Homo sapiens: one gene and its partner. The protein of the gene in region 1 purifies or fractionates together with the protein of each later gene. This does not show direct contact. Each region holds a gene or a part of one and is shown on either strand. Other genes may lie near its edges.

What was found. The genes of interacting proteins can lie anywhere in the genome.
Region 2: the proteins of CIMAP2 (region 1) and MMADHC purify together in Homo sapiens (affinity purification with mass spectrometry; one large-scale study listed by BioGRID and IntAct). This does not show direct contact.

What each region holds. Positions count from the first base shown.
Region 1 is NC_000001.11:54,816,063-54,819,562, reverse strand, and holds part of CIMAP2 (ciliary microtubule-associated protein 2), read right to left. Parts: intron 2,575-3,500; coding exon 2,441-2,574; intron 1-2,440.
Region 2 is NC_000002.12:149,577,776-149,581,275, reverse strand, and holds part of MMADHC (cobalamin trafficking protein CblD), read left to right. Parts: intron 1-1,627; coding exon 1,628-1,845; intron 1,846-3,500. UniProt on the Homo sapiens protein: Involved in cobalamin metabolism and trafficking. Plays a role in regulating the biosynthesis and the proportion of two coenzymes, methylcob(III)alamin (MeCbl) and 5'-deoxyadenosylcobalamin (AdoCbl). Promotes oxidation of cob(II)alamin bound to MMACHC.

The sequences.
Region 1 (3,500 bases):
TCTGTCTCTACAAAAATAAAAATTAAAAAGTAGCCAGTCATGGTGGCACGCACCTATAGTTGCAGCTACATGGGAGACCAAGGTGAGGATTGCTTTGGCTCAGGAGTTCTAGGCTGCCGTGAGCTATGATTGTGCCACTACACTCCCACCTGGGTAACAGAATGAGATCCCATCTAGACATGACCTCCTGCTGACTCCTCACCCAGCCAGCAGTAGACTGGAGGTTTGGTTTGTGGATAGATTCCAGGGGGCTAGGAGGAGGTGCACAGTGGAATGTAGGCAGACAGGTCCCACAATGAGAAGAGAGGGGGTAGGAGGCAGTCCATACGCTGAATGAGACAGCCCAGTCTCCTTCCTCTGATCGCCAACAACCACACTTACCCCCACCCAGGACAGAGGATTGTTTTCTAGAGAAGCTGAATAGTCCCACAGAAAACACCTAGAGACACTGGCATTTGAGGGTCTCAACAGAAAGACCAGGGCCCCTGCCAATCACTCACAGTGACTGACAGGCCCCAACCAGACTCACAGTATTATTTAGTGCTTTCCTCTTCAGTATGAACAAACAAGCAAAAGAAAAAAAGGAACTTGGAAGAATTGGAGACAACACAGGGGGCAAAAGAACTTCAGGAAAACTTAATTAACATCTTTAGATAAAAGAACATACTGCAGCCAGCCGCAGTGGCTCACACCTGTAATCCCAGCACGTTGGGAGGCTGAGACAGGCAGATTGCTTGAGCTCAGGAGTTCAAGACCAGCCTGGGCAACATGACAAAACCTGGCCTCTACAAAAAATAACAAAAATTAGCCGGGTGTGGTGGTGCATGCTTGTAATCCCAGCTACTTTGGAGGGTGAGGCAGGAGGATCGCTTGTGCCTGGGAGGCAGAGGTTGCAGTGAGCCAAGATTGCATCACTGTGCTCCAGGCTGGGCGTCAGAGTGAGACCTCATCTTAAAAGAAAAAAAAAGAACATACTGCACACTGCATACATGACACAGAACTGGGTGCTATTAAAAGAAGAAAGAAAAGAGCAATCCACAGCAAAAGAACTCTTGGAAACTAAAAAATATGATAGCCAAAATTTTTAAAATAATAGTAGGGTAGATAAGGACAAGAAAATTTTACCAGAAAGTAGAACAGAAAGGTAAGATGGAAAATAAGAAAGAAGAGAGAGAGAGAAAAAAAAAGAAAACTAGAGTGCCAAACCAGGGCATCTAACATTCATCTAAAAGAGATATCTGAAAGGCAGCAGACAGAACACAGAGGAGAGGAAATCGTCAAAGACAAAACTCAGAAGATTCTCTCAGAATAGAAGGTGCTGAGTCTCCAGATGGAGGGAAGCCACTAAGTACCCAGCACAAAGGATGAAACAGACCCATGCCAAGATGCATCAGAACAGGAAGTACAAAGAGAAGATCCTGAAAGCTTCCAGGAAGGAAATGCAGGTCACATACACAGCACAGAAAACCAGAAAGGTATAAGACTTCTCAGCAACCATATTTGAAGCTAGGAGGCTATGAAAGGCCTTCAAAATTCAGAGGGAAAATTATATCCAACCTAGAATTTTATTTCCAACCAAACTATTGATCAGATGTGCAGAAAGGAAAAATAAGAAACATTTTCAGGCATACATTCTATCAAAAATCTTTCCTTCCTCAGCCCTTTCTCAGGAACCCACCAGAACAAGGGGGTAAGTTGAGAAGGAGGAAGACACAGCACTACTTTGATAAAAAATAAAATATTCTTTAAAATTACATTTAAAAGCTGATTTCTCCTGAGAAATCTGGTCCTCAGAATCTGGTCCTCATGTCCTCACCATAATTTCAAAAAAAAAAAAATACTGGATTATAAAGTGCATGTTTGTCAACATTGTAACATTTCTGAAATTGTTACTATATTACAATGGATGGCCTCTTAGGTCAATCAAATATGGCAGCAGCTAACATTTACAAGCTGTTGTATAGTTTGCCACAGTATTTAATGTACCTTTCCCTTCTTAGGCTTTGCAACCTTCTGAAATGAGTTTTACCAACCCCATTATGAACACCAAGAAACAGATTCCACGTGGTGAAGCCACTGAGAGCCGAGACTGGACCGTATGGGCTCTGGGTGGCAGATTTAAGGTTGATTGAGTACCTTTTCCTTACCAAGGGTTTTCAACAGATCATTTCATTTGGGTCTCCTCAAACATCTGCTCTTTTGACAGCTGAAGGAAATGAGGCTCAGCGAAGTTACGCAGCATGCCCCACCTCACACTTACAGTAAGTGGCAGAGCCAGGATCTGAACGTGAACGTCCCTCCACTGCCTCTGCTGTTTGGCTGGCATTAGGGGCAGAAGCTGTGTTCCCATGGGAACCAAACATGGGGAACCACCAGCCCACCCCAGAGTAAGACCCCCCACCGCCCTCGCCCCTTCGCCTGCAGCTCCAGCTGCACTCACTGCATGAGCATGTCCCGGGCCAGGTCTGAGAGGTAGCGTTTGGATCCACTCAGGAATAGGGATCGATATCGCTGCCGCCTGTCCTTTGTCTCCATCAGCCAGGTGTTGAGGTAGCGGCCCACACCTACTGGGTTCTGCAACAGGGAGAGGATGGCAGGACATTAGCAAGCCTGGCTTGGAGACTGTGTCTCGGCTTCCTCTCCTCCCCTTGGACGCTTCCCTACTCCATCTGTTATGAGTTGAATTGTGTCTCCCAAAAAGATATGTTGAGGTCCCAACCCCGAGCAACCCCAGTATCTCAAAATGTGACCTTATTTGGAAAAAAGGTTGCTACAGACATAATTAGTTAAGATTAAGTCATACTGCAGTAAGGTGGGCCCTTCTTCCAATGTGACTGGTGTCCTTTTAAGAAGAGATACACAGGAAGACAGCCATGCCAGGAGACAGGCTGGAGTGACGACTACAAGCCAAGGAACATCAAGGATTGCTGGCCACCACCAGAAGCTACAAAGAGGCAAGGACAGATTCTTCTCAACAGGTTTCAGAGGGAGCACGGACCTGCAGACGCCTTGATTTCAGACTTCTCGCCTCCAGAACTGTCAGAGAATATTTCTGTTGCTTTAAGCCACCTAGTTTGTGGCAGCCCTAGGAAGGGAATACAGCATCCCACCCAGATATCGGGGTCACAGATCCTAGAGGCACCAACAGAGAGGTTGAGAAAGGAGATGCAACTTGCCCAAGGTAACACGGCAAGGGCAGAATAAAGGCAGGACAAGAACCCGGCCATCTGCAGAGAAGCAGTCCTGAGGGGTGGGCTGGGGAGATGTTAGGACCCAGAAGCTGGTCCCATGCTAAACAGAAGTTGCCTCCCACAAGGGAGAAGCCTGTTTCATGAGGCACCCAGGTTTTGGAGGTGCCAGCAGAGGGGCTCTCCCGCCCTGTGGGGTGCGGTCAGCTGAGCCACCAGAACCCGGACCTCACATCAGCCCTTCCCACTTCACAGTGGCTGGCTCTGTGGTAGCAGTAGGGTCATCTGGCTCTGGTCTAAACATTTCATTTG
Region 2 (3,500 bases), on another chromosome or scaffold:
CAAATTATATAAGATGTTAGTATCTGGAATATATAAAGAATTTATAATAGATCAATAGGAAAAGATAACCCAACAGAAAATCAGAAAACAAAAGGACATGAATAGGCCTTTCACAGAAAACAAAACCTAAAATGACCAGTAAACATATGGTCAAATCCACTGCCCAAATCTACTATTAATATGGGATGCTTGTTTTCTGTAAAGAGAATCTAGGGATTGTTAGACTTTTAAAAACCATCTTGTTCAAAAATAGCTAACAGGTTTTCTCTTGGGAAGTGACTTGAGTAGTCATTAGTGGCTGTCTAGATAGAGCCTTGTTATTCAACATGATCTGCATCAGTATCATTTAGGAGCTTGTTAGAAATACAAAATCTTGAGCCCCACTCCAGACCTATTAAATCAGAATCTGCATTTAAACTAGATCCCAGATGTATCTTAAGTACATCTTTAGAGTTTGAGGGGCACTGGACTAGAGTGTTTATGTTGAGAATCTTGAGACGTTGTCTGGGTTCAGCAGGAAATGGTTCCATGATTGATGGGTGATGTATGTCCTAAGTGTGGAAGAGGGATATGGTGGCTCATGATCCAGGAATGAGACAGCCATGCTGACATGGCCATTCTCAGTTACTTAGTTCTCTGACAGGATATTTTTAAATATCTATTTTTATTGCTAAGTAATATGCATAGCAGTTGTCCCTCTGTTTCTCTAAGCCCAGATCTCTACTCTGAGTAATTATTAGTTTAATTTTCTACTTTATTCTTTTCTGAATCTTTCTGAATTTTTTATAAGTTAGGATTTTTTTTAAAGTTTTAAGTGAATAAAGTAATGTGGTCTGTTCTATATTTGCAATCCATATTAACTCATGTGGCTGGTAAACAGAGCATTAGGTCATGTGATGCATGATTTTTTTTCCCGTTCGTATTTTGTGCCACCAGATAACAGCAGCAGAATGCCCCTCCCCAGACGACCATTACTAAGTTTCATTTTAGATCTTCTCTTTACTTAAAAACATGGGCCTGGCACAGTGGCTCATGACTGTAATCCCAGCACTTTGGGAGGCTGAGGGAGGAGGAGACCTTGTGTCTACCAAAAATAAACAAAATTAGCTGGGCATAGTGGTGTGCACCAGTGATCCCAGCTACTTGGGAGGCTGAGGTGGACCTCAGAGGTCAAGGCTTCAGTGAGCTGCGATCACACCACTGTACTGCAAGAGACCCGTCTCAAAAACAAAACAATACGTGAATATGGGGATGTAAATAAATGTTATTATACATGCTGTTCTTTGACTTAGCTTTTTCTTTTAACGCATTGTATCCTGGATTTCATTCAGTGTCAGTATGTAAAGGTTTATTGTCTTCTTTTTAATGACATTCAAGCATTTCTTAGTATGGATTAGAGTATTTTATTCAGTCTTTCCCCTAATAACGGACTTGCCTGTGATCTGTCAATCAGTTGCTTTGATTAGTGTTTTGGAAACAATAGGAAACTATTTATATTCACATGGGAAAGCAGATTTTGAAGATCTTTTAGATAAAAATATACATAATTTTAAGAAGAGCATTCTTTCAGTCTACCAATATACTTGACTATTAAGGAGAAACTGTTCCTTTTGTTGTTTCTCTTCAGGCTCTCGAACAGTGTGGCCTGATGAAACTATGGGACCCTTTGGACCTCAAGATCAGAGGTTCCAGCTTCCTGGGAACATAGGTTTTGATTGTCACCTCAATGGGACTGCTTCACAGAAGAAAAGCCTGGTTCATAAAACTTTGCCTGATGTTCTAGCAGAACCTTTATCAAGTGAAAGACATGAGTTTGTGATGGCACAATATGTGAATGAATTTCAGGTAAATTGTTGGTAACATTTATTGTGCTTTCCTGATTATTAATGCTATATGACTTGATTATTATAAGCATATTACTTTTGTTGAAAAAGTAAAAAATCAATTTAATTCCAGTACATGTATATACAAAAACAGCATATATAGCTTTGGAAAACTTGGCATTGTCCTCTACAAAGTGTTTGCTATATAATTTTTTTACTGTAGATTATAATATTTTTAAAATATTTCTTGAAAAGTATGTTTTTAAGTAACTACTCTAGATATACATAATGTAATTACATCTGTAGACTGGAAATTTAGGTTCCCTGTTTTTCATTTTTAATAAATGGCAATTAAATTTGTATATGGATCTAATTCCAACTGGTTCTGTATTCCTCTAGCCATTTAAAAGCTTAAGAAAAATTTGAGATCTCTGAAATTGTTCAGATATAGTAAAAAAAAAAAAAAGGAACCAGTTTCATAAGTTTATTTTTTCTTAAACAATTTATTAAGGTTTGTTTGGGTTTTTTTTTTTCATTTTTAAACATTTTAAACTTGCATTTATGATTATTTATTTAAGTGGAAAGCTACATGCAATTCAGGGTTTCTGTCAAACCCCTGATGGTTATCATTTTTCATATTTTTGCATAGTTTTAGGCTGAGTTTTTTTTTATCAAAGCCATATTATAAGCAGCACCAATTCCTTACATTTGAGTTATGTTAGATGACATGACACTGAGACACAGTTGACCTGTCCTATATTTTTATCTCAGATAATTCCTTCTCAGCCTTCTTGGCTCCTTGTTCTTCCTGTCTACCAACTAAATTACATTTCCCATAAGTTTCTGTCCTACACCTTCTCATTTGAATCACCCCTTGGTCACTTAATCCCTTGGCCGCCTCCACAGTCTATGTTTTTATAATTTCTAATTCAGTATTTCTATTTCTGACATTTCCAGTTCTATATTTCTATATGCCTACTGAACCATCTTTGTTTGGATGTCTCACAAGTCCCCAGATTTTGTGTGTCTAATACTGAAGTAATCTTTTTTTCCTTAAAAACCTGTCCTAACTCCTGTATAACCAATACTATTAGTGGAATAACCATCCTCCCCTCTCTCGTAAGATAAAACTTATAGCACCAACCTTCTTTCTCCATCATATCACTATAAATAATATAAAAATCACATCGCTTTTATCTCTCAAGTTGCTCCTAAAATATTAGTGTCCTTTCAATTCTTTGCCAGAGTTCAAGGCCTCTTTGTCTTACCTGGATTTTTAGAGTCATTGTAGCATGACACACAATGAAGATAGAATAAATCTGGGTTCAAAGATTGACTCTGCAACTTACTTAATTTTGTGACCTCGAGGAAATTACTTAACCTTTCTAAGCTCCTGTTTCTTTGTTGTTGTTGTTGTTGTTTGGTTTGTTTGTTTTGAGATGAAGTCTTGCTCTGTCACCAGGCTAGAGTGCAGTGGTGCGATCTTGGCTCACTGCAACCTGCAACTCCCTAGTTTAAGTGATTCTCCTGCCTCAGCCTCCCGAGTAGCTGAGATTACAGGCGTGCACCACCACACCCAGCTGATTTTTGTATTTTTAGTAGAGGTGGGGTTTCACCATGTTGGCTAGGATGGTCTCGATCACCTGACCTTGTGATCTGGCCGCCTTGGCCTCCCAA